4 linked regions of the Homo sapiens genome follow. The protein of the gene in region 1 purifies or fractionates together with the protein of each later gene. This does not show direct contact. Each region holds a gene or a part of one and is shown in the gene's direction. Other genes may lie near its edges. The genes, in order: COPE, COPG2, SACM1L and COPZ1.

Region 1 (7,660 bases):
CAAGACCAGCCTGCCCAACATGGCAAAACCCCATCTGTACTAAAAACACAAAAATTAGCCGGGCATGATGGTGTATGACTGTAGCCTCAGCTACTCAGGAGGCTGAGGCAGGAGAATTGTTTGAACCCAGGAGACAGAGGTTGCAGTGAGCCGAGATTGCGCCATTGCACTCCAGCCTGGGGGACAGCGTGAGACTCTCAAAAAAAAAAAAAAAAAAAAGAGGCAGGATGAGGGTTGACAGACGGCTTGCCTGCCTGATGTCCTCTCTGCTGATCCCTCCCTGGAGCTGGAACTGACAAGAGTTGGCCCTGGGACTGCAGGGCTGGAAGGCTGGAAACTGACTTGCTAGGGGTGGTCACTGTTACCAAGAAGGCCAAGAAGGAGCCAGCAGAGGAAAACAGAGGAGAAAGAGGGGCACAGGGAGAAAGGATGGGGACCATCACATAAGCTGCTGGATCCTGCCACGCCTGACAGCCACCCTGCAGCCAAACTTTTCTCTCTTTTTCCCTGAGACAGTCTCACTTTGTCCCCCAGGATGGAGTGCAGTGGCGTGATCTCGGCTCACTGTAACCTCCACCTACCGGGTTCAAGTGATTCTCCCGCCTCACCTTCCCCAGTAGCTGGGACTACAGGTGCTCGCCACCATGCCTGGCTAATTTTTGTATTTTTAGTCGAGATGAAGTTTCACCACGTTGGGCAGGCTGGTCTCGAACTCCTGACCTCAGGTGATCCGCCTACCTCGGCCTCCCAAAGTGCTGGGATTACAGGTGTGAGTCACTGCACCCAGTCCCAACTTTTCTCTTCTGGGAGGTAACGCATTTAAAGCGCCTTGATTTCTGCCCTTCTATCCTGGCTCATGCTGGAAGAGCCTCCAGCTTCTCAATGACCTTCCCAAACAATTCAATGAAGATATGAACTGCCCTCCCCAGGGGTCTCTGTCTGTGCAGACGCACACCAGGCCTGTTAGTTGTCACAACTTCCTCTGAGATGGGACTAAAGGCCCAGGAAAGCTCAGTGACACCCCCAGAACACAGCAAATGGGCTGCTCAAACAGCTGCTTGCAGGGGTTTCCTGGCCCTTCCATCAACGGCTGGGCTGAGGAACCCCAAAGGCCGGCTGCACCTTCAGATTGAGGGACCTTGGCTCCTTGAGGGAAGCCCCCATGACCTCCAGGCTGAGCAGAGGCTGGGGAGTGCTGAGACTGGCTGTGTGTCCCAGACCAAAGACGTCGGGCCACCTCCTCCTTTGAAGGGCGGTGGGAGGGGAGAGGCGGGCCCCGCTCACTTGCACGTGTTGGTGAAGATGATAATGGACCAGTCCTCGTGCTCATCCTGGAAGCGCTGGATCAGGTGGACCAGGTAGGCGTCCTTGACCTTCTCAGGCACCAGCAGGTAGCGCTGGTCCAGCTGCTCCACGGTGCTCACCCTGGGGATGGACAGATAGACCGCCACGCCTCAGTGTCCCTGTCTGTAGGATGGGGCTGCCCTCCCCACGCTGTCTGGGCTGTGGACTCACGGGGCCTGTGCTTCCCAGAAGAAGGGCTGGTTGGTGGCCAGACCCTGCAGCTCCCGGAGTGTGTCGGTCAGCGTGGCGCTGAACAGCAGTGTCTGCCTGCGGGCCGGCACAGCCGCCAGGATGGCCTCCAGGTCCACGGTGAAGTCAGTGCAGCCCTGTTCCAGCAGCCGGTCTGCCTCATCCATCACCTGCCGTGCCAATGGGGGCAGGGGTGAGGGTGCCGTCCATGGCCCCGGGTCTTGGCCACCCCTGAAGCAGGCCTCTTTGAGAGGCATGGACATGGACCCTAGGCCCTGGAGTACCCTCCTTCCAAGGGAGGCCTGCCCCTCACCCAAGTCTCAGCAAGGCCCTACCCCCGAATAACATTGCTAGGACTGGGCCCCCTCTTGTTGGTCCTTGAACGGTCCTTGTCACTGTTCCTAGCGTTTTACTGGACAGTCTAACGGACATACGTTTCCTAAATGGATGAGATGGTGCCCCAGGCTCTGACATTGGGCCTGGAGGCTCCGAGCCCAGCTCCTGAGGTCTGCAGGGGCGGGGCGAACTCACCAGGAAGCGGATCTTCTTTATACTAAAAGTGTTGGAGCTGCGCAGGTGATCTGCCAGGCGCCCCGGCGTGGCGATGACCACGTGTGGTTTCCGAGAGAGCTCCAGCGCCTGGGCCACCATGTCTGGGGGACAGAGCATGAGAGGCAGGGCTGGGCAGGTGGTCCAAAGCTGCTAGGGTCCCATGCTGGGGCTTCCCCCGCCTCCCAGCTCCCGTACCCATGCCACCGACGATGATGCAGTCTTTCAGCCCTAGAGGCTTCCCCAGGACCCGGAACTGCTCTGCGATCTGGTAGGCCAGCTCCCTGTGGGTGTGAAGGGGCCAGGCTGGGTCAGGTAGTGGTTCTGGACCTGCCCCCCATTCCCCTCTCCATCCCCAGGGTTCCTCCCTGAGCCCCCAGGCTCCTGACTTGCCCAGTCCTGTTCACAAAGGCTCTGATGCTGAGCCTTGGAGGCCATTGTGGCCCCTGCCCCCTCGCCAGGCTCAGCCTGGAACATCCCTCCTTCACCAGCCCGACCCAAGCTGACCTCAGCATCTCTTCCTATCCCAAACCTGTGCCTTCCCCCAGTTCGCCTTTCAGCAATGGCCTCACCACCAGCCAGTTGCCCCAGCCAGAGGGTCTCAAGCATCAGCCTCCTTTCTGCCCCCAACCAACTCTGTCCTGGCCTCTCCCTGGCTCATGACCTTTCCTGCTCACACACCCCCAGAATCAATTCTAACCCTCCGCCTGGCATTCAAGGCCTTTCTCAAACTGGCTCCAATATGCCCAGGTCCCAGTACCCTTTCTGCTGCCTGCCTCTTTCTTTCTTTCTTTTTTTTTTTTTTGAGACAGAGTTTTGCTCTTGTTGCCCAGGCTGGAGTGCAATGGCACGATCTTGGCTCACCGCAACCTCCGCCTCCTGGGTTCAAGCGATTCTCCTGCCTCGGCCTCCCGAGTAGCTGGGATTACGGCATGCGCTACCATGCCCAGCTAATTTTTTGTATTTTTAGTAGAGACGGGGTTTCTCCATGTTGGTCAGGCTGGTCTCAAACTCCTGGCCTCAAGTGATCCGCTCACCTGGAGCTCCCAAAGTGCTGGGATTACAGGTGTGAGCCACTGCACCGGGGCCATCTTGTTTAATTCTGCAGGACCCCTAAGAAGCGGGTAGCAAGATTTTCATGCTCATCTCACACGTGGGAAAAGGGCGCTCAGAGAGGGAAAGGTGCTTGCCCAAGAGAGCACAGCTGGTTAACCCATACCCAGGAGGCCTGCTGGGGGCTTACCTGGTGGGTGTCAGGACGAGGCAGAAGATGCCATAGGGATCCTCAGACAGCTTCTGCAAGATGGGAAGGACAAACGCTGCTGTCTTCCCACTGCCTGTCTTAGCACAGCCCAAGCAGTCTCGACCTGGGTTGGGGACAAAGCAGCATCAACACCCTCCATGTGTGGACAGCTGGGTTTCAGAGACCTTGCCCAGGACACACTGCCAGTGAGTGGCAGGCTGGACTGGAACCCATATCCATTTGACCCGAGATGCCCACAGCTTCCTACCACCTCGTTCTAACTCCGTCCAGGAGCACGTGAATTTGGGGAATCCAGAATTCCCTTCCCTCATATGCATCTTGTGCTCCCTGTTGACCCCTTCATTTGTTTATTTAATCCCTGACTTATCACATCTTAGGCTTCCTGTGGGCCTCTCTTTAATGGCGAAACTGGGTTGGGCTAGAGGAGCAGAGAGAAGACCTTCTCCTAGAGGAGCAATCACAGGACCAAGGAGTCCTGGATCTACCAGCAATTTTGACAGCCTCAACTTCTATTTGTAAAATAAAGATAGCAGTACCAGGTCTGCAGGATTTTGCGATACTATCGGACTAGTCATCCATCAAACCCTCCCTGTGCTGAGACTATGAAAATTTCAGAGATTACATCACTTGCGTACGAACACAAAGCGAGTCAGTCATGCAACCTAAATGCCAACACTGTCCAGTCGTCCTCCGGAACCCCGGATCTCCTGTAACGCCCGAGGTTGCCCCTCGCCTCGTGGGACCGGAATAAGCAAAGGTTGCGAGAAGGGAAAGGAGTCGAGAGGAGCGGAGAGGCCTCTTGGGGAAGGCCCTGGGCCATACTCACCCTCCAGGATGGCGGGGATGCAGCCGAGCTGCACGGGCGTGGGCTGCTTCAAACCCAGCTGCCGACATTGTTCCACGAGCCACGATGACAGCCCGAGCTCCGCGAAGCCTGCCATCCTTGTGGCCGCTTGTAGGGGCCCCTTGTAGGGGCCCGTGTGATCCGCGCTTCCGGCGCGCGCCGACGACGTCACGAGAAAAATCTTCCTGTTTATTGGATCTGCCTCCTGCGTGGTCCCACCCTCTCCAGCTCCCTCAGCCTATTCCCAGCCTCGACCGCATCCTTATCATGTTTCCCCGGATCCCATTGGCTTGCAGAAACACACTACAATTCCCGAGATGCTCTCCGTGACGCACTTACGCCTTCCGCCCCCTTGCATATTATTGTGGAGCTTCCCATTGGCTTACTTCGCCGCCGCTCGGAAAAAGTAAACTACATTTCCTAGCGTGCCCGTGTCTTGCTTCCGGCTGACGTGTCTTTCAGGAAGAGGAGCTGGTGAGAAGACAGCGAAATGGCGCCTCCGGCCCCCGGCCCGGCCTCCGGCGGCTCCGGGGAGGTAGACGAGCTGTTCGACGTAAAGAACGCCTTCTACATCGGCAGCTACCAGCAGTGCATAAACGAGGCGCAGCGGGTGAAGGTGCGGCCGCGCAGGGGCGCGGGGACGCTGGGGGCGGAGGCGGAGGACGCTTTCTGGTGGCCGCGAGCCGCGTTCTGCGTCTAAAAACTTTCTCTTTTCTTCTCGCGTTTTTTGGGCCACCTCTTCCACAGTTCAGTGAGGAGTAGTCACTGTCCCGTGACAGAACCCAGAGCAGTAACAGTTTACGGTACTGCTCACTCGTACAGCGTTCTCTCTGCGCCCTTGAAAGTGTTTTGAGTAAGGGAGGTGTTTATGCCACTGTAGTGACAATAAGCCTATTTTGTTCAGCCATACCTTCAGTTCCCGTGAGATGGAGACTGTTGCTTATCCTCATTTTACGGATGAGAACCCTAAAGTTCAGAGAAGGACGTTTCCCTGCCCAACCAGCCTGGTTATTTCTCCCAGAGCTTACCCATTCATTCATTCATTCTTCATTGAGCACTTTTTTGGACGGGCACTGTATTCCGCTGGACTCAGAATGATAAACACAGTTTCCCAGCGCAGTGGCTCAAACGCCTGTAATTCTGGCGCTTTGGGAGGCCGAGGCGGGCAGATCGCATGCGCCCAGGAGTTCGAGACCAGCTTGGGCAACGTGGAGAAACCATGAGTCTACCAAAAATTAGCCGGGCGTGGTGGCGGGCACTTGTAATCTCAGCTACCGGGAGGCTGAGACAGGAGAATCGCTTCAACCCGGAGGCCGAGGTTGCAGTGAACCGAGATCGCGCCACTGCACTCCAGCCTGGGTGACAAAGTTGTAAGAATTAAAGAGGAAAGAAACACGAAAGGTGGCTTGCCAGTCAAGACAGGTTTATTTTAGAGAAAACAAACCTGAGAGGCGCCTTCTGGCGGAGTTGGGTCAGAGTAACACTCTTTTACAGACTAAGAGTTTTTAAGGATTCAGGGTCGGAGAGTTTATCAGAGGCTTGAACTGCTTCTGTGTCTCTTCGTTGTGCTTATCTGGGAGGGAGAGTTGTGTGTCTGTTCCCATACATCTTTCTTTTTTCTTTTCTTTTCTTTTCTTTTTTTTTTTTTTTTGAGATGGAGACTCGCGCTGTTGCCAGGCTGGAGTGCAGTGGCGTGATCTCGGCTCACTGCAACCTCCGCCCCCAGGTTCAAGCAATTCTCCTTTCTCAGCCTCTCGAGTAGCTGGGATTACAGGCGCGCGCCACCATGGCCCGGCTAATTTTTGTATTTTTAGTAGAGACGGGGTTTCACCATGTTGGCCAGGATGGTCTCCATCTCTTGACCTTGTGATCTGCCCGCCTTGGCCTACCAAAGTGTTGGGATTACAGGTGTGAGCCACCGTGCCCAGCCTCCCATACATCTTTCTGCAGCTGCAGGCATACCCCCCTACTCTGCTTTTAGCTTGCCTATTTTAGTGCACCTGAAGGGAAAGGAATGTGCTTATTAAGGCCCACTGTTTTACTGGGGCCCGTTGTATGAAGGTGAAGTTTGGCAGTTACCCAAGAAATTTTCTTCCCACTCTCTCTCTGTCCGAGCTGTCTTTCTGTGTTTTACTGTCTCCTCTTTCTGGCTGCTTGTAGTTAGAAGTGATTTCCTGGCCGGGCGCGGTGGTTCACACCTGTAATTCCAGCACTTTGGGAGGCGGGCGGATCACCTGAGGTCAGGAGTTCGAGACCAGCCTGACCAACTTGGTGAAACCCCGTCTCTACTAAAAAATACAAAAATTAGCCGGGCATGGTGGCAGGCACCTTAATCCCAGCTACTTGGGAGGCAGAGGCAGGAGAATCGTTTGAACCCAGGAGGTGGAGGTTGCAGTGAGCCAAGATCCAGCCATTGCATTCAAGCCTGGGGAACAAGAGCGAGACTTCTCTATTAAAAAAAAAGAAAAAAGAAATTTCCTTAAAATTCATGAGGCTAGAAAGGGGGCTGGAACTTAAAGTGGCAGTGTTTGTCTGAGATGTTGGTGCTCTTACTATGTCAAAAGTGAGACCCTATCTCAAAAAAAAAAAAAAAAAAAGAAAAAAAGAATGTTTCTAGTAGGCTTTCTTGTCTTCACCAGAACCCGCCACTGGAAAAAGAAAAAAAAAAAGGCAGAGGGAGATTTGAGACACAGAGATGATGGAAGCAGAGATGGGAGTAATGTGGCTACAAACTGAGGAATGTAACAGTCACCAAAAGCTGGGAGAGGCAGGGAAGTATCCTCCCCTAGAGCCTTTGGAAGGAGTGTGGCCCTGCTGACACCTTGATTTGGGACTTCTGGCCTCCAGGACTGTGACTGTGAAGGAATACTTTTTTTTTTTTTTTTTTTTTTTTTGAGACAGGATCTCACTCTGTGTCACCCAGGCTGGAGTGCAGTGGCATCCTCCTCCTCCTGGGTTCAAGCGATTGTCCTGCCTCAGCCTCCCAAGTGGCTAGGATTACAGGTGCCCACCACCACACCCAGCTAATTTTTTTTTTGTTTTTTTGTTTTTGAGATGGAGTCTTGCCCTGTTGCCCAGGCTGGAGTGCAGTGGCACGATCTCAGCTCACCACAACCTCTGCCTCCCGGGTTCAAGCAGTTCTCCTGCCTCAGCCTCCCTAGTAGCTGGGACTACAGGCGTGTGCCACCACACCCAGCTAATTTTTGTATTTTTCCTAGTGATGGGGTTTCACTGTGTTGGCCAGGCTCGTCTGTAACTCCTGACCTCATGATCCGCCTGCCTCAGCCTCCCAAAGTGCTGGGATTATAGGCATGAGTTACCGTTCCTGGCCTAATTTTTGTATTTTTAGTAGAGACAGGGTTTTATCATGTTGGTCAGGCTGATCTCGAACTCTTGACCTCAAGTGATCTGCCCGCCTCAGCCTCCCACAGTGCTGGGATTACAGGTGTGAGCCACCACGCCTGGCCAGG
Region 2 (7,842 bases), on another chromosome or scaffold:
AAATGTTTAAGGACTCTATGGAAGAAGGACTAGATTTGTTCCTTCTGGACTATAGGGTAAAAGTTACAGGGAGATATCTATTGGCTGATCAAAGGTGAAATCTTTTTTTTTTTAGGTAAAGAAAGATTGAGCACTTGATAGTGAGATTATGGAAGGGCTAGGAGGGACAGACAAACAGACTGGATGACTTAAGATTCTTTCTGAAAGACTTTGATTCTATGACCTTTAGTAATGGTATAATTATTACTTCACAACATCCCATTCCATGGCCTTCTCATTAAGGAGAATGGAATGTGGATGAGGCAGCCATCTCCAAGAAAGGAAGGTAAAGTCCCATGGATCTATTTCCCAATTTATTGCCAAATACTTACTTCCCCAAGGACTTCACTGGTTGAATCCTTCCCCAAACTGGGTAACTTTCTCTGCCATTCACTTCCAAGGGCCAGTAGGCAAATTTAATCAATTACTTAGGAAACTGAACAGGTTTTGGACAAGTAATCTGGCAATGAAAAGAGTGTTTTCCCTCCCAGGGAACGGCTTCCTCTGATTCTGGTTTCTGAGTTCCCACTTCCCCCTCTGACAGGTTTTGTTGCATGATTGTAGGGGAATTGGAACTTAGTCCAGGAACTTGGTCCAAACTTAAAATCCCAAGGGACTCAGCTTACTCCCTCACTCTTCTTCCCTCGTTTCCCTACAGGAAAGTCATCATCAGCACAAACCCACTGAGAACCTCTGGCTGCCCCGCATGCCTCAGAAAAAAAAGTTAAGATCTAAGCTGAAACCAATCTTCCCTTTGATACTGTCGGATGATCCCACATCCAAGCGAGAACAATGGTTTAGGTGAAATCTTGCTTCTTCTTGTACTTGCTTTCTTTCCTATCTTTTCCCTATTCACGTTTCTGGTTCTTTGCCATACAATTTAATGACATATTCTTTGGTCGTACAAAGATAGTAAGACACGACTTTCCCTACATGACCCTAACCTCATTGACACATGAATCAAAGAGAAACAGTCATGCAAAACTAAGGTTTTGCACTGGCAATGGTTTCAAGATTGAGGGGAAATATTCCAAGGTCTGTGCTTTGAAGAAACAGGAAAAAAAAAAAAGTACCCTCAATACAAGTTAGGCGCTATATCACAGGAACCATGTGCTATGAGAACACATTAGACAAAAGAGGTTTTATGTGAAACTACTTACAAGAGCAGCCTATGTGTAGTTTAGAGAGGACAGAAGAGATTCTGGAGTTCCTCCAAAGGTTTACAGTGTTAAGTTCAGAAGCATCCCTTGTCACGGAACAATATTCCTACTTGGCACCAATCAACAGGCTCCTATCATTGTCTTGTCTTCTCTGAGAATGTAGCCAACTTTAAAGTGAATGGTGGGGCTGGGCGCGGTGTCTCATGCCTGTAATCCCAGCACTTCAGGAGGCCAAGGTGGGCAGATCACTTGAGCTCAGGAGTTCGAGACCAGCCTGGCCAACATGGTGAAAACCGTCTCTACTAAAAATACAAAAATTAGCCAGGCGTGGTGGCAAGTGCCTGTAATCCCAGCTACTTGGGAGGCTGAGGCAGGAGAATCGCTTGAACCTGGGAGGCAGAGGTTGCAGTGAACCAAGATCATGCCACTGCACTCCAGCTTGGGTGACAGAACAAGACTTGTGTCTCAAAATAAATACATAAAATAAAATAAAATAAAATAAAATAAAATAAAATAAAATAAAGTGAATAGTTCCATGAATCCCCCTGCCCTAGGATCTACTAAACAAAGAACTTTCTTTGTTAAGGTTTTCCACTGACAATGATTTCAAGAGCGAAGGGAAGTATTCAAAAGTCTACGCTTTGAGGACACAGAAGAAAATGTACCCTCAGCTCACCTTTGCTCCAGTCCATGAGAGAGATATGAGGAAAGATGGTAAGCTCCTCTCTTTCAAAGCAAAGGCTTACTGGACTGAGATTTGGGCTGGAGATACAATCCATGAGGATTATAGATGTGGCAAACTGGCTTCTCTCGTGGTAGTCCTGGAGACTATTTTTCCCTATAGCATGGAAGTTAACAACAAATAGAGGCTCAAAAGGTGCAAAGCTCTGGACCCTGTTTAAATCCTCAAATTTCAAGAAAGCTCTAGCAGTGTTTACTAAGCTATATCACCCAGCACTTTAATAGTTTTTGCCATATTGATGTATTATTTGCTGTTAATTTACTTAGCATTTTTTAAAAGGATTTTTAAAAAATCTTGTCCTAATTAATACTATATCATTGATATCATGGTTTTGATGTACAAATTATATGCTTTTCTGAAACACTTATATCAAATTTATAATAATGAAATTTTAAAATGTTTATCTATGTACCACCTAGAACCACCCAGTGGTATGCATATTATACTTTGAAGAAAAAACTGCTCTAAAAGGGCCAAAGGATAAGTCTGTGTGTCTTAGAGGTACAAAAGTCTCTGGGATTGGGGTAGGGAATGGGGTAGAAGGGGCTTGGAATAAGGTTGTATGGCAGAGGGTACAATGAGAATCCTCCTCACATATTATCATTTATTTAACAGTATTTCAAGGGTTCCTACTAAGTGTCTGACACTTACCAAGCACCAACAATATCACTTTCAATATGTGAAAGAGATGAAACAGATCATAAAAGGCCTTGACAGGCTGGGCGTGTCCGTAATCCTAGCAGTTTGGGAGGCTGGGGCAGGAGGATTGCTGGAGGCCAGGGGCTTGACACTAGCCTGGGCAACATAGTGAGATCCTGTCTCTACAAAAAATAATTTAAAAAAATTTAACAGGGTGTGGCGGCATGCACCTGTAGTCTGAGCTACTTGGGGGGCTTGAGGAAGGAGGATTGCTTGAACCTAGGAGTTCAAGGTTGCAGTTAGCTGTGATTATGCCATTGCACTCCAGCCTGGGTAACAGAGTGAGACCCTGTCTGAAAAACAAACAAACAACAATAACAAGAAATCGAAAATACCACAATGCCTTAAATATTATTTAAATAAAGGTTTGGGTTTTATCCAGTAGGCAGTTTGGACCCAATGAAGAATTTCAGGGCACTGAGTACACATTTGTGTATTAGATATATATAATTGGTGGGTCCTCAGACTTCACCAGCTCATGGTTTTAAGATAAGGTCCATTTCTCCTACTGGGTTTCTCTCCTCAAACAATTCCTGAGACTCCCTAAGGTATCCTTGCCTGTCCCACAAAGCCATTGCAGTGATTGCTCAACCCGTCTGCCAGCCATCCTCAGTCCAAATAGTCCTGATACCGAAGGCCTGGGGTCATATTATACCATCCCTTAACTGGCTTCTTCAGGCTTCTCTGCTCCTGCTATACCTATCTGCCACCACATCCCATCCCATTTCCACCTACTGATGCTCTTAACTCCGTAAATACTGCACAGCTAAAAACAACCTGTGGTATTAAACAAAACTTCATAGATATACAGAAAAGCTGAAGAACAGCAGAGAATGATTGATCTTGCTTTACAAGGGGCTAGTCTTAGGGTCAGCCCCAAATCTGAACTCAGGTCCTTCTACTTCTCAGCAGGTCTCCGGGGCATTACCCACCTTGAGAACCTCTGGGCCTATTATCTACACTGTCTCTGCCTAGGTTCCCAATACCCTTGGGCCAAGGAAGAGGAAGAGGATGTTTCCTTCCCCAAAGCCTGTTTATTTTCACCCCCAGAATAAATGAGTGCAGACTTCTATTTCCTTCAAAGAAAACTCCACCTACAAAGTATGACTTGACCTTTACAAGCCATATAAAGCAAACATAGTAGTTAATAGTACATTTAGTCAAGTCGGAGTTAAATCTTAAATGATACCATATGTAGGATATCAACAGTTCATCTTAAATCTGTATTTCAGGGAAAGAATTTCTCTAGGATGTAGAATGTAATCTAGGTTAGAATTTCTCTAATTTTGCAGGGGCACGATCCTGTTGAGTATAGACCCAATTTACATTTCTAAACAAGTTATGCCAGTGAAGCCAAAGGCAGACAAAGTTTCTTAGCTACACTCTTAGACAAGAGAACAGAAAGCCAGCATACACTCTGAGAAAAAGAGGAACATGAGTTAGGAATGAATGCACGTTAATTTAGTGAGTTTCTTAAGTGTCAATATGGTTTCAGATGGAATCATTGAAAGAAATAGGCTTGAACAAGGAAGACTCTAAACTGGCAATGAATTTTCCACTGGGTTTTGATGAAATGAAGGAATCCAAAAATTATAAAATAGGTTGGGAATGGTATTACACGGTCCAAAATCTACCCTCTAAAGACCAGCCTCTGGTCCCTCCAAGTGCGTCTCCTTTACATCTCACATTAAGTATCCTTCGAGTACTTCTGAAAAGCCACATTCACCAGGGTGCCTGTGCTTTGTCGTAGCTTCCAAGAAGTCAGCGAGTGAAAGGCCAATTTCCAAAGTGATTCGGGAACCACTGACACTCGCATCGCTCTTGGAAGACATGCCCACCAGAACCGCGCCCGGGGAGAGCGCCTTCCGCAACGGGAGGGCCCCGCAGTGGATTATCAAAAAGGCCACGGTCATCGGGTGAACACAGACCCCTCAGTCCTCCCGCCTCGCTCTCTTGAGACTGAGGGGTCCGCAGAAGTCGCCACCCAAATAAAACCACATTCCTGCTGCTGCGGGCGTGGGCTCCCGGGTCGCAAGCCGGGAGGGTCGAGCCGAAGTCTCCGGCGGGCCGCAAGAGGAGAAGGGGGCGTGGCTGCGTCCCGGGGGCCGAGGGCGGCCGGGGAGGGCGGGCCTTGGCCCCGAGTGAAGGCGCGGCGGCCCAACCGGCGTGAGAGCGCGGGGCCGGCCTTCCTGCAGCCTCTTCCGCTCGCCGGCTGCGGCGCCTGGGACGGTTGCGGTGGGTCTGGGCGCTGGGAAGTCGTCCAAGATGATTAAAAAATTCGACAAGAAGGACGAGGAGTCTGGTACGCGCGGGGCTTCCGAGGCCCACCCTCAGCCGCGGGACGCCCCTTCCCCCGCCCGCCGCCACCTGCTTTCAGGCCGGCGGGGCTGGGGGCGTGGGCGCCGCCGTGCCAGGGGGCCGGAGCTGGAGCCGGCCCCTCCCCTCCCCTCGCGGCTGCCCGGGGCCTGCCCGTAGCCCCTCCCCCGGGCGCCGGAGCCTCCCTTCGGGCCGCGCGCTCCCGCCCCGGCGCCCGCGCGCGCCCCGTTCCCGCCCCTCTTGCGGCGCAGCCCCTCCGAGCCGCCTCCTCCCCTGCGCGCGGGCCTCCGGCGGGGGCCGAGGGCGTGCGCGCGTCTCCGCGTCCAGGGGTGCTGGTAGGGTCGGACCCCTAGTGGGAGCACCCTGTTCCCGGGGCTGGGGTCGACGGCACAGGGTGTGTGTGGAGGAACGTTCAGGTGCCTGGTACCTTATCGTTTTCCTGGGGTCACCGGCTCTGTCCAGGTCCCCGGGGGCAAGACTGTCCCGTGGGACACAGCTCGTTGAATGCTCAGGTGTCCAGAAGTGACCTGCGTCTTGATGCCCGTCTTTGGTCCAGAGCAAATGGGGAAGATGCCAAGCATCCTCAAAAAGAAAAAAATTCTCAGTGTTTGGTAGCATCTCCCACAGTGTGAGAGGGGGTTGGGTTAGTCAACCTCCATGGCCTCTTGCACCTTTACGCCTGCATGATTCTCTGGGAAACTTCGTTTCTGCCTCTCCTTAAGTGTTAGAAACACATAAAATACTGCTTACCTAAGGAAATCAAAAGCACCCTACTACAATCTCATTAATCTTCGTTGTTGTGGAAATGACACATTTTTAACATTCATGGAAAAAGAGGGCAGGGAAAGAAGACACTCATTTTGGAGAGGGTTGCTGCGAAAGAGAAGTCTCAGCTCTTCGAGTATGGCAGTGACAGAGCCGGGATCAAAATGATTTCATTCAGTTCGTATGCGTATTAGCCATGATTATCACTGTGCCATCCAAGTGTTCACTTCCCAAGCATTCAGTACCCTTCTCTGGAAAGTATATAAGTTTGTGTAGAACAGCTGTTCAGGACATTTTTTTGTTTTGTTTTATAAATAGGTAGTGGCTCCAATCCTTTCCAGCATCTGGAGAAGAGTGCTGTTTTACAGGAGGTATGACTGGGAAGTATCTTGTGCCCTTTCTTTTCTATTCTGTTTTAGAGTGGTGGGCAGAGAATCCCTGGGCTGCTGTGATCACGACATGCAAAACAAGAAACGTAACAGAGTTTAGGGAATATAGATTTGAGGGAAAAGAAAGAGGGGTTACTTGTCACAGGAGAATTTGGAGCTTATAGAAATGCAAAGACATGAAGACTGTCACAGGTTGGGAATTTTAAATGTAAGAACAGGTGTTTAGTGCAAGGTTATTGAAATCAGTTATCTGTATTAATCTCATTGTATTAGTATGATATAGATAAGTATTGTGATCCTTATTTAACTGGTATAGCCCATAAAGTTGAAGTAGTCAACCTAAGGGAATGAGAAAGTATAGGATGGAAAATCAAGGCCACGTGTAATAATTTATCAGATACCTTAGTAAATTGAGAACTATAGACAATGTTCTTTGGATACCGTGATTAAAAATAGTCTGTATTAAAGTTGATTTGCTATAATCTGTGATAGAAAAGGTAGAAAAGTAGCAATGTTTTTTATGTTTTTTCATAGGCTCGTATATTCAATGAAACTCCAATCAATCCAAGAAGATGTTTGCATATTCTTACAAAGATTCTTTACTTACTGAACCAGGTATATTATTTTTATTTTCCTCAGATAAGTGTGTCCTGGAATAGAAATACTGAAGATTCAGTGAAATACTTTCTGGAAAGTATATTTATTTATTTTAAATTCACTTAATTTTAACATATACAACGTTTGGTTAACAAAATAATATGTAAAACTTGAGTACGAGGACTATGACATATACAGGTTGAGTATACCTTCTTTGCAATGCTCGGAACCAGAAGTGTTTTGGATTTCAGATTTTTTTGGATTTTGGAATATTTGCAGAATACATACTCACTGACTATTGCTAATCTGAGTATCTGAAATCCAGAATGCTCTGATGAGTGTCTCCACTGAGTGTTATATTGGCACTCAAAAAATTTCTGATTTTGGAGCATTTCAGATTTTGGATTTTGAGATTAGAGATGTTTAACCTATACTTCCTTTTTATTCATGAGATCCTAAACCAGTGATGCGCATAGTAGATTCTCAATAAATCCTTTGGTTTCAATTTAATGAGTACTAGTTAGAGCATGTTGTTTACATGTATTTGGAGATCTTCATGTTTTTCTGAAAATACAGTGCAAGATCAGGCAAATTCCAGATATTTTCTTTTTTATGTGTGTAATGATGTTTTAAAGCTTTGATTGTTAATATTCAGATTTTATATTTATTATCCCTATGCTACCATTACTAGCAGAATAATTCTGGGCAGTAGCTTAACCATTTTATGTGCCTTGATGTCCTTTTCTCTACATGGGGATTATGATAATACCTGTTACAGAGTTGTAATGACTAAATGAGATAATTAGTGTAAAGCACTGAGAATAGTCCTGAACATACAGTAAGCATTCAGGAATAGTTTTCCTTCCGTCATTCAGCAAATATTTATTGCGTAGCTGCTGTGTGCTGTGCACTGTTTTAGGTGTTGGGGATATAGCAGACAAACCAGCAAAAATATTTGCGCTCATGAAATGTAGATTCTGCTTGCTGCTGTTGTTATTAATTTTTCTTTTCTTTTTCTTTTTTTTTTTTTTGCCCCAGACTTAAAAAAAACTCATGAAATGTCTAGGGCCTTAGAAAATATGATTTTGTTTCATGGATTCATATTCCCTCAGTATCAGTGGGGAATTGGTTCCAG
Region 3 (4,541 bases), on another chromosome or scaffold:
GTGTACCTGACATACCCAGTGTGTATTTCTTTTTGGATGGTAATGATTTGCATACTTGTTTGTTTTTTTCACTGGATCAGCAACTTTTTGAAGGTAAAGACTGTGTCTTACTCATTGTTTTATCTCCTTTGTCCAGGATATAGTGAGCCCTCAGTAAATGTTTGCTGAATTAAGGACTCACTCCACCACCACCACTAATTCTGTCACCTTTTTGATAGGGAGGCTCAGTTACCTGTTCATCTCTGTATTCCCCTCAGTGCTCAGCCCTGTAGACAGTCGTGACATAGTTTTAACTAAATGCTGAAATGTTGAGTAGGGGGAAAGAAAGAGCCATCTTATTATTATTATAGTTAGCAAAATTTTTCTGTAAAGAGCCAGGTAGTAAATATTTTTGTCTTTATGGATGGCTGTACATTCTTTGTTTTTGTGTTTATAACCATTTAAAAATGTAAAAAGCATTCTTACCTTACAATACAAAAACAGGTTGAAGCACAGGTATTGCCTGGGACATGACTGCAGGTTTTAGGGCAGGAAGGAAGAGGCAGCATGTGCCGGTTCCTCAGCGGCCAGCCCTGCTTTCATTTCCTCTCTGGGTCCTCTGCCTTCTTTCCTGAAAACACTGCCCAGCGCATGCCATTTTTGGGGAGCCACTCTACTGTTAAATTAGTTCATTTTGTTGTTGTGACTATACCCACATTTACTTAAAGAACCTCTGGAGAGGCAGGAAAGTCAAGACCAAGAACTCTGCTTGAATGAAACGGATGATTCCTTTAGGGAGTGTCCAGCAGAGTGGCTAACAAGGAACTGCCCTTCTTCTTTTGTCCAAGAAGAATTTTAAACTTCAGAGCCATGAAAATGAGCAATTATGCAAATTCGAGTATATTTTGAGTAAAAAGAGATTGGATGCTGTGGATGGTAACTTCTCATGTCAGTTTATTCTTATGATAAACTTTGTGATGTTTGGTTATGGTAATATCTGATTTCTAGCTCCTGCTGTGGTTTTCAAAGAGAATAGAAAACAAATGTAGCATGATCTCTGAGGGCTTGTTAGGAAGGAGTCTGGATGCTAGTTTCTTCCGTGGTGTGCTCACTGGCTGTCATTCCCTGTATGTATTTCTCCTTCTGCAAATGAGGCCAGTAGTGTTGCAGAGAGAGAAGCTATTCTCTAGGTTCAGCTATTCAAGGAGTAAAACAAAGTAGATCTTTGCCCACCGGCTTGCTGCTAACCTTTATGAACTTCGGACTTTGGAAAATGCATATCAGCAGAGTTGGGTTAAATATGTCATTAAAATAGGTTATTGGCTGGGTGCTGTGGTGTGTGCCTATAGTCCCAGCTACTCAGGAGGCTGAAGTGGGAGGATCACTTGAGCCCAGGAGTTCTGGTCTGTAGTGTGTTATGCTGATCGGATGTCCGCACTAAGTTCAGCATCAATATGGTGACCTCTTTGAGCAGGAGATCACCAGGTTGCCTAAGGAATGGTGAACTAGTACAGGTTGGAAACAGCAGGACAAAACTTTCATGCTGATCAGTAGTGGAATGGTGCTTGTGAATAGCCACTGCACTCTAGCCTGGGCAACACAGCAAGACCCCATCTCTAAAGAAAATGTTATTGACTTTTGTTTTATATATTTGTGTATATGCAAAAAATACTCTACAAAATATACATAACTTCAGAAAAGTTATGTATAACTTATGTTTGGTATTTATGAATATTCTATTAATTTTTTGTGCAGGTGTTTTGACAATAGCTCATATCTGTTATAGAACTATGAATTAAACTTAATAGTTATTTGTATTATTAAAATATACTAAAAGTGATCATTATTATTTGTATAATATAATATGAAATCATTTAGTCCAGTGGTTCTCAAAGTGTAGCCTCTTGATCGGTAGCATCAGCATCACCTGGGTACTAGGAACTTGCTAGAATGCAGATTCCTGGGGCCCAACAGTTGATGCTTTATCAAGCCCTGCAGAAGATTCTGGTACTAGCCAGGGTTTGAGAACCACTGGTTTAAACCTTAATTAAGAGGTTCTTATATTTTTCCTGTGAATGTGCTAGTAAACTTTAATGTTGCCAAAATGTGCTAAACAGCTGAAAACTGGGTCTGATATCAACAAACGACTTATTTAGCTTTTTGTTTCTTAATATCAACAGGTGACACTTGGACAGAAACACTGGCCTATGTGCTCTTCTGGGGAGTTGCAAGCATTGGAACATTTTTTATCATTCTTTACAATGGCAAAGATTTTGTCGATGCTCCCAGACTGGTCCAGAAAGAAAAGATAGACTGAATTTGTATTTGTGGAAAGCGGCTTGGCTTGGAAGATTCCATTGTGCAGAACTGGAGTCTTTACTGACCCGCTTTCCACATCAGCCCAAGGTCTTTTTAATGCCTTTATCCAAAAGCACATCTTGTGCTCCATGCAGGATGATGACAGAATTGATCTGATGTTACTGCCTTGATGGTCTCTTTACTATTGGGACAGTTAGATTTATAATTTGAAGCTATTCTGTAATTAAAATATAACCTGAATTCAGCTTGCAGAATGGAAGCTGAATCTGTTCATTGTATTCTATTGATTGTCAATTTAATTAGCTGTTGCAGAATAAGTAATATATTTTAAAAACCTAGCTCCTTTCATTATTTAAAACAGCAAAATTATTTTTGTAGCTCAGTTTCATTATTGTCATTGTAGAAGCGGTCACTATTAGCAGGCATACTTTTCCACACATCTTTGGACTTTTCTTAAAAGTTCAGTAATAAGCTAACTGTGTTTATAAAATGTAAGTCTCTTACAGACATCAAGTAGTTTGATGAGACAGTCTGTGACTTCATGATAGGAAAGAGGAGGATGAGGTCTGGGGTTCTTTAAAGTCTCTGGTGGGCTGCCTCATGACTTTAATCAGCTTGAACTGCCAGTGCACCAGCAGTTTAGGTGTGATGAGAGAATTCAGATATACTTTATCTTTTTAAAAAAGTGTAAATAAAATCAAAGAATGTAAAGTCTATCTCTTACGCTAGAGGTCCAAAGCTGCCTCTGTTTTAAAGATTATCCCAATGTGGAAGATGCCCATGACTGGTCAGCTACTTCCTCCTATACATTTTGGTTTCTTTGAGGGTCACTCATTGAGACACGCAGGCCTCTGAGAGGGTCTTGTTCTAGATTTCATATTGCACTTGGAGGGTAACAGCTGCTTTTTCACGCATGGTACTCTTGATGTTTTTCACTCTGTCAAGGATTTTGTTGGCTATCAATGAATGTGTCTAAAACTTAGTGCTTCCAGGTAGTTATAGTACTCCAAATCAAGGACCAACTTAAACGTTAATTTTTGTGCAAAAACAAACCTGAAAAATATGCTTCGGAAACTGTGCATAGTTCTAATTGTAAGTCAGATTGTATATTCAAATTGTAATTAAGAGATTTAAATATTAGAACGGTATGTAAGGTAGTATAATTACCACTATTTTAAATAATTCAGTTAAACACTGCTGCAATATTTCAGTGTTGTGCTTGAAAATATGTACAGTTTTTTTCCAATATTAATACCTTATGTTGTCCTTAAATATTTCTAAAAGCGCCTTTATTTCAGCATTACCTTTTTTTCATCACTATCTTTTATAAAACATTAATATAAGTCGTTACTTTTAGAAACTAAAGGAAATAATAGCTGGAAAACCCTCTGTAGTTTAAAATCAGTCATTAAACTCACAATAGGGTAAGTAAATATAGCCACCTGTTAACATGTAAATAAGCATAATTTGTTCCAAAGATGGAATATTGAAACTTAGTTCATGTCTGCTGTAAAATATTATTTAAATGCTGCTGGGCATTTCACTTAAAGAACTTAATGTCAACAGCTACAACAAAGACCAAATCTGAACTGCTAATGTGGCTGCTTTGTAGGGAATGGACTAATATCAGTGTGTTAGATCTTAAGGTATCAGTATTTCAGAATCCTGCGACGATTTTATTTCTAAATTCATGTACTGTATGTCCATAAGTGAAAATAAAATGTCATATTCTTTTCTATTATTGGTATCATTCATGTACTTTGAAAGTGATGTTTTTCTTTTTGATCTTAGAATGCTAAAAATCATGCAAAATGATAGACGGTTTGGCTCTGTGTCCCCACCCACCCAAATCTCATCTCAAATTGTAATCCCTACGTGTTGAGGGAGGTACCTGGTGGGAGGTGGTTGGATCATGGGGGATGGTTTCCCCCATGCTGTTTTCATGAGTTTGCACGAGGTCTGATGGTTTAAAAGTGTTTGGCATTTACCCCCTTGCTCGCTCACTTTCCTGCCACCGTGTTAAGATGTGCTTTGCTTTCCCTTCACCTTCTGCCATGATGAAGTTTTGTGAGGCCTCCCCAGCCATGCGGAACTGTGAGTCAAACCTCTTTTCTTTATATGTTACCCAGTCTCAGGTAGTTCTTTACAGCAGTGTGAAGACAAATTAATACACAAAGCAATGCATGATCATCATAGAAAAATTAGAGTAAGCAAGAAAATCAGTAGCTTCTGCAATTTTGCTT
Region 4 (7,195 bases), on another chromosome or scaffold:
TCGGGAGGCTGAGGCAGGAGAATCACTTGAACCCTGGGAAGCAGAGGTTGCGGTGAGCCGACAGTGTGCCATTGCACTCCAGCCTGGGCAACAAGAGCGAGACTCCATCTCCAAAAAAAAAAAAGTTAGCTAGGGCCCTAGAAAGCTCTGGTCTGAACCTCTCCCCTTTCCAGAAGTGACAGCTATAGTCCATCCAGAGAGGGTACAGAGACTTGCAGAGTTCTCTCACTGATTAAAGCAAAGTCACAACAATAACTAATGTCTCTAATTCAGTCAATTGTCTTCCTCCCACAGCACAATTACCCCAACAGGCTGGAGAGCTAAGAATCAAGCGATCTTCTGCAACAATATCTGACTTAAAATTTGTCAGTTACTACACAGAAAAAGGAGCCAACCATCCCCATGAACCAACCATACCACACTTTTTCCTCCTTATGGTCCTTGTAGAATATCTGGCACTGAGGTAGAGTCCTTGAGGTAGGACTGGGATGCAAGAGAGGCAGTACAACAAACTAGAGGAGTGGACTGTGGGTAAGAACATGGTTTAGAGTCTCCTGTGCTCAAACGTATGGCTGCTAAAACAGTTCTGTAGCCTTAAGTAAATTATTTAACTGCTCTAAACTCCATGTTGCTCATCTGTAAAATGGGTTTAATAATCATCTACTTCGTAAGGATTTTTTATTTTATTTGTTTTTTTTGAGACGGAGTCTCACTCTGTCACCCAGGCTGGAGTGTAGCATGCAATGTCGGCTACTGCAACCTCTGCCCTCTGAGTTCAAGCGATTCTCCTGCCTCAGCCTACCAAGTAGCTGGGATTTCAGGTGCCTGCCACCGCGCCCGGCTAATTTTTTGTATTTTTAGTAGAGACGGGGTTTCACCATCTTGGCCAGGCTGGTCTTAAACTCCTGACCTCGTGATCCACCCGCCTCGGTCTCCCAAAGTGCTGAGATTGCAGGTGTGAGCCACCGCACCCGGCCAGGAATTTTTTTTTTTTTTTTTTTTGAGACAGAGTTTTGCTCTTGTTGCCCATGCTGGAGTGCAATGGCAGGATCTCGCTCATTGCAACCTCCACCTCCCGGGTTCAAGAGATTCTCCTGCCTTAGCCTCCGGAGTAGTTGGGATTACAGGCACCTGCCACCACACCTAGCTAATCTTTGTATTTTTAGTAGAGACGGGGTTTCACCATGTTGGCTAGTCTGGTCTCGAACTCCCGGCCTCAGGTGATCTGCCTGCCTCAGCCTCCCAAAGTTTTGGGATTACAGGCATGAGCCACCATGCCCAGCTACTTCATAAGGATTTTAAAAAATGTATTCAATAATGTATTTAAAGATTTAGCACCGTGCCTGGCACATAATAAGTGGGCAGTAAATGTTAGTATTACCTTTAAGCTGCAAAGCCAATGACAACCCACTGACTGTGATGCCAGGCACAGTAAATGTGTGAACAACTCTCCTTGAGGAATAAAAGGACAAGCCTTCACTTCTTCCAGATATAAGGCTTAACACCTGGTATTCCACCAGAAATTCACCTTCTGTCAGAGTACACTGTAGGTCTATAATTTGCATTGTATTGTTCAATTTTTTATTTTATCTTATTTTTATATACAGACTGGGTCTCCCTGTGTTGTCGAGGCTGGAATGCAGTGGCTATTCCCAGGCACAATCACTGCGCACTACGGCCTCGAACTCTTGGGCTCAAGCATCCTCCTGCCTCAGCCCCTGGGGTAATTGGTACTACAGGCACATGCCACAGCGCCCTTGTATTGTATTGTTTTATGTTTCCTTGATTCTACTCCGACTATTAGAAAAATTCCTGGGTGGCTGGGCCCGGTGGCTCACGCCTGTAATCCCAGCACTTTGGGAGGCCAAGGCGGGTGGATCATCTGAGGTCCGGAGTTCGAGACCAGCCTGGCCAGTATGGCGAAACCCCGTCTCTACTAAAAGTACAAAAATTAGCCAGGGGTGGCAGGCGCCTGTAATCCCAGCTACAAGGGAGGCTGAGGTGGCAGGGAGAATCGCTTGCAACCGGGAGGCGGAGGTTACAGTGAGCCAAAATCACACCACTGCACTCCAGCCTGGCGACAGAGAGAGACTCCGTCTTAAAAAAAAAAAAAAAAAAAAAAAGGCCGGGTGCAGCAGTGGCTCACGCCTGTAATCCCAGCACTCTGGGAGGCCGAGGCGGGCGGATCACGAGGTCAGGAGATGGAGACCATCCTGGCTAACACGGTGAAACCCCGTCTCTACTAAAAATACAAAAAATCAGCCAGGCGTGGTGGTGGGCGCCTGTGGTCCCAGCTACTCTGGAGGCTGAGGCAGGAGAATGGCGTGAACCCGGGAGGCGGAGCTTGCAGTGAGCCGAGATTGAGCCACTGCACTCCAGCCTGGGGGACAGAGCGAGACTCCGTCTCAAAAAAGAAAAATTCCTGGGTAAGTTTGGAATCTCTTCTTGGAGGGCTCCTAAGGATATAATTTTCAGAGATGAGGGAAAAAATCCCTTTAGGATAATTAAGGTAATAGGTGTCCCTGCCCTAAGAGGAGTCAGGGATCAGGAAACCAAGGGATAGGGGAAAGCCAAGCTTCATCAAAATCATTCCCTATTGTGAAATTCTTGCATTCAGTAAACTTCTCTTTTCTCATTTTGCAACGCCTCATTTCTTTCCTCTCCTTTCTTTCCTTCTCTTTCTTTCTTTCTTTCTTTCTTTCTTTCTTTCTTTCTTTCTTTCCTTCCTTCCTTCCTTCCTTCCTTTCTTTCTTTCTTTTCTTTCTTTCTCCTTTTCTTTTCTCTTCTCTTCTCCTTTTCTTTTCTTTTCTTTTTTTTTTGAGATGGAATTTCGCTCTTGTTGCCCAGGCTGGAGTGCAATGACGAGATCTCGCCTCACCTCAACCTCCGCCTCCCAGGTTCAAGTGAGTCTCCTGGTTCAGCCTCCCGAGTAGCTGGGATTACAGGCATGTTCCACCACGCCCGGCTAATTTTGTATATATGTATATTTTTTGAGACGGAGTCTCGCTCTGTCACCCAGGTTGGAGTGCAGTGGCGCGATCTCAGCTCACTGCAAACTCCGCCTCCTGGGTTCACGCCATTGTCCTGCCTCAGCCTCCAGAGTAGCAGGGACTACAGGCGCCCGCCACCCACGCCCGGCTAATTTTTTGTATTTTTAGTAGAGACGGGGTTTCACTATGTTAGTCAGGATGGTCTTGATCTCCTGATCTCGTGATCCGCCCGCCTCGGCCTCCCAAAGTACTGGGATTACAGGTGTGAGCCATCACGCTCGGCCTGTATTTTTTTTTTTTAGTAGAGACGGGGTTTCTCCATGTTGGTCAGGTTGGTTTCAAACTCCCGACCTCAGATGATCCGCTCGCCTCGGCCTCCCAAAGTGCTGGGATTACAGGCTTGAGCCACCGCGCCCAGGCACAACGGCTTGTTTCTATTGGAAAACCCCAGAATTTACTCCCTATAACCCCTCTCTTATTCTAATCCCATCCCTTTCCCCGTTTGTCCCGCAAACCCCATCTCCAAAGCCGATTTCACGTTGAGCTCAAGTTGGCCTTTACAAACTGACTTCTCATGTTCCTCAGGCCCAGCAAAGCCTGGAACTCCACCTTAGGGAGATTGTTATTGCGACTATCAACTCCTGGCAGCCTTGGTTTATGTAGTTAACATGTTGGGCCTTTCTTGGCTCTACTCTATGGTTGTGCAGACTTTCTGTGAGGATGCTGAAGTGACCTGAGCGAGCATGAGGGAAGGGCTAGCCACAGAGATCATGGACCTAATGCGGGCGCTGAAAATAGGGATTAGGGCAGGATTCCGGTTAGAAAGCGCCAGTGTTAAAGGCTAAGGAGACACAGCGCCCCCTAAAGAGGGTGCGGTTTAAAAATCGCTAAATCAGTCCGACAATATCACGTGTCCTCGGCCCTACCAATTGAAAATTAACAATCGCTTCTTCTGTTCCCCATGGAAACAACCCCGCCCCACTAACCCTCCCGCCCCAATGAGTCGTGAGGTTTTGGCGTTTTATTGAGTATTCAAGCTGACAATCAAACACCTGAGCCTTCTGGTTGGACACTTTGCTTCCGGTAAGCAAGCTAGTACAATAATTGGCCAATAAAGCAAGCCTTACCCAATGATCCTTATCCTAGGCGGGGCCTAATGGGAACGTATGGCCAATCAGCGGCGGCGTTTCTTTTGCGGCTCCACGTCGGCACCAGCTGCGGGGCAAGATGGAGGCGCTGATTTTGGTAGGAGCTGGAGGGGCAGCAGAGATGCTGTGGTGTCCACAGGGGCCGGGAGTCAGGGTTCAGCCCGAGTGGGAGACGGGGAAAGAGAGTTCCGGGTAATTCTTGGGGACTGAGCGTTCTGCTGACCTTTGGAATAAGTGTGTGGCCTAGTGTAGGAGCTAAAGCCTTGGTTTAGAGTAGGAAGCCCTGCCGGGGAGAGGGCATAGAGTCGGTGGAAAGTTGAAGGCAGCACATGGACTCCTTAGGATACACAGACCTGTAGGCGTACTGGATTAGGACCCTTCAGGTTGCCCCTTATTTTTAGCATTGTGGATGATACCCTGATTTTAATTTACCAAACCACCAAACTCGCCCCATATTGTAAGAAAAGAATACAGATGTTTTGTCGTTACAGACTCCTCCTGATGGTTTCCCAAGTTTGACTCTCCATTGCCGATTCCCTGCCACATTCCTTCAGGAAACTGTTTTGTCTTCGGTTTCCTGTTAATCCCTATTATATAGGTTTGTCAAATAATCAGTATTCCATCAAAGTTCTGGGATACCTGATAAAGTTAGCATGGATTGTGGAATATTTTTTCTAGACTCCTTATTCTGTTCTCCTTTTCTCTACCCATTTAGACCTTAGGAATTCTTTTTTTTTTTTTTTTTTTTTGAGACCGAGCCTTGCTCTGTCACCCAGGCTGGAGTGCGCACGTGGCGCGATCTTGGCTCACTGCAATCTCCACCTCCCGGGTTCAAGCTATTCTCTTGCCTCAGCCTCCCGCGTAGTTGGGACTATAGGCGCGTGCCACCACGCCCGGCTATTTTTTTTGTATTTTTAGTAGAGACGTGGTTTCACCATGTTGGCCAGGCTGGTTTCGAACTCCTGACCTCAAGTGATCCGCCCGCCTCGGCCTCCCAAAGTGCTAGGATTACAGGCTTGAACCACCGCGCCTGGCCAGGAATTATTATTATTATTATTATTATTATTATTTTTGAGACGGAGTCTCACTCTGTCGCCCAGGCTGGAGTGCAGTGGTACGATCTCGGCTCACTGCAAGCTCCGCCTCCCGGGTTCACGCCATTCTTCTGCCTCAGCCTCCGGAGTGGCTGGGACTACAGGCGCTCGCCACCACTCCCGGCTAATTTTTTGTATTTTTTAGTAGAGACGGAGTTTCACCGTGTTAGCCAGGATGGTCTCGATCTCCTGACCTCGTAATCCACCCGCCTCGGCCTCCCAAAGTGCTGGGATTACAGGCGTGAGCCACTGCGCCGGGCCAGGAATTCTTATTGTATGATCTAGGATGCTAATTTCTCCCTCTCTGGTTACATGAGAATTGTGGTCGCTAAAGGGCTGTATTAGCCCTCTTGTCCATATGATGCTTTATGCTTGTTCTAACAAATAAAATACCTGTTACCCCTTTTTAGAACTGGACCAGAGAATTTCTCTCAAAAGTGCCCTATTTTGCGATTTGGAGGGGTGTGTGTGTGTGTGTGTGTGTGTGTGTGTGTGTGTGTGTAGGTAGGTAGGTAGTATAGTGTAGGAATTTAACTCCCAGCCTTCTTCCTTAATTGGCTTGAACTCTAGGCCTCTTTCCAAAGAAGCTTGTCTTTTATTTTCCTTCAGATCTCCTAAGCATACACATTCAGATCCTCATCAGATAAAAGAATAACAGGTTTTAATTCCTCTCTTTCAGTTAAAGACAGTTAATTCCTTATGTCGGTTGGTCAAATATAGGTAAAAAGCTTAAAATCTGAGTAGTTTTAAATATTTTCTGTACCAAGCAGTTAACAAGTATTCTTTTTTTTTTTTTTTTTTTTTTTTTTTTTTTTTTTTTGAGATAGAGTCTGGCTGTGTTGCCCAGGCTGGGGTGCAGTGGTGCAATCTTGGCTCACTGCAACCTCCGCCTCCCAGAATCAAGCAATTCTCATGCCTCAGCTTCCTGAGTAGCTGGGGTTACAGGCACGCGCCACCATGCCCAGCTAATTTTTGTATTTTTAGTAGAAACAGGGTTTCTCCATGTTTGCCAGGCTGGTCTAGTCTTGAACTCCTGACCTCAAGTGATCTGCCTGCCTTGGCCTCCCAAAGTGCTGGGATTACAGGTGTGAGTCACTGCACCCCGGCCAGTTAGCAAGTTTTTTTTTTTTTTTTTGGAAACAGAGTCTCGCTGTGTCACCCAGGCTGGAGTGCAGTGGTGTGATCTCACCTCACTGCAACCTCTGCCTCCTGGGTTGAAGCAATTTCTCCTGCCTCAGCCTCACGAGTAGCTGGGACTACAGGCACGTGCTGCCACACCTGGCTAACTTTTTTGTATTTTAGTAGAGACGGTTTCACTGTGTTGCCCAGGCTGGTCTTGAACTCTTGAGCTCAGGCAATCCACCTGCCTCAGCCTCCCAAAGTGCTAGGATTATAGGAGTGAGCCACCGTGCCCGGCAGCAAGTATTCTTAATCAAGAGGTTGAGTGCAGTGGCTCATGCCTGTAATCCCAGCACTGTAAGAGGCTGAGGCAGGAGGATCGCTTGAGCCTGGGAGTTTGAGGCTGCAGTGAGCTATGATTGTGCCACTGCACTCCAGCATGGGTGACAAAGCCAGACCCTGTCTCTAAAAAAATAAGAATAAAAAACCTCCCCCTAAACCCAATTAGCAGACTAGGATAGATTCTAGGGAATTGGTTTTTTTGGAAGTTTTTAGACTTACCTATATATGTTTAGAAGGGAGCCTGCTTAAAGGTAAAGGAATGAGGAAGATAATAATTGGGGAGCCCTTTTAACAATGGGCCTGTGTGTAGTGGGTAAGCTGGGGGAGTTATATGTGAAAGTATCTCTGTCGGGCGCAGTGCAGTGGCTCATGCCTGTAATCCTAGCACTTTGGGAGGCTGAGGTGGGCGGATCACTTGAGGTCAGGAGTTCGAAACCAGCCTGGCCAACATGGTGAAACCATGTCTCTACTAAAAATACAAAAAAAAATAGCTGGGCGTGGT

What was found.
Region 2: the proteins of COPE (region 1) and COPG2 purify together in Homo sapiens (affinity purification with mass spectrometry; 5 studies listed by BioGRID and IntAct, with this or other methods). This does not show direct contact.
Region 3: the proteins of COPE (region 1) and SACM1L purify together in Homo sapiens (affinity purification with mass spectrometry; 4 studies listed by BioGRID and IntAct, with this or other methods). This does not show direct contact.
Region 4: the proteins of COPE (region 1) and COPZ1 purify together in Homo sapiens (affinity purification with mass spectrometry; 3 studies listed by BioGRID and IntAct, with this or other methods). This does not show direct contact.

What each region holds. Positions count from the first base shown.
Region 1 is NC_000019.10:18,916,369-18,924,028, reverse strand, and holds the start of COPE (coatomer subunit epsilon), read left to right. Parts: upstream 1-4,641; 5' UTR 4,642-4,680; coding exon 4,681-4,806; intron 4,807-7,660. Other genes in the region: probable ATP-dependent RNA helicase DDX49, read right to left, coding at 1,285-1,425, 1,516-1,703, 2,065-2,186, 2,281-2,366, 3,326-3,449, 4,173-4,287. UniProt on the Homo sapiens protein: The coatomer is a cytosolic protein complex that binds to dilysine motifs and reversibly associates with Golgi non-clathrin-coated vesicles, which further mediate biosynthetic protein transport from the ER, via the Golgi up to the trans Golgi network.
Region 2 is NC_000007.14:130,665,732-130,673,573, reverse strand, and holds the start of COPG2 (coatomer subunit gamma-2), read left to right. Parts: upstream 1-4,825; 5' UTR 4,826-4,905; coding exon 4,906-4,942; intron 4,943-6,039; coding exon 6,040-6,092; intron 6,093-6,644; coding exon 6,645-6,725; intron 6,726-7,842. Other genes in the region: TSGA13 (testis-specific gene 13 protein), read left to right, coding at 698-840, 1,786-1,913, 4,391-4,560. UniProt on the Homo sapiens protein: The coatomer is a cytosolic protein complex that binds to dilysine motifs and reversibly associates with Golgi non-clathrin-coated vesicles, which further mediate biosynthetic protein transport from the ER, via the Golgi up to the trans Golgi network.
Region 3 is NC_000003.12:45,741,374-45,745,914, forward strand, and holds the end of SACM1L (phosphatidylinositol-3-phosphatase SAC1), read left to right. Parts: intron 1-2,159; coding exon 2,160-2,296; coding exon of another isoform or gene 2,297-2,362; 3' UTR 2,363-4,036; downstream 4,037-4,541.
Region 4 is NC_000012.12:54,320,947-54,328,141, forward strand, and holds the start of COPZ1 (coatomer subunit zeta-1), read left to right. Parts: upstream 1-4,184; 5' UTR 4,185-4,217; coding exon 4,218-4,235; intron 4,236-7,195. UniProt on the Homo sapiens protein: The coatomer is a cytosolic protein complex that binds to dilysine motifs and reversibly associates with Golgi non-clathrin-coated vesicles, which further mediate biosynthetic protein transport from the ER, via the Golgi up to the trans Golgi network.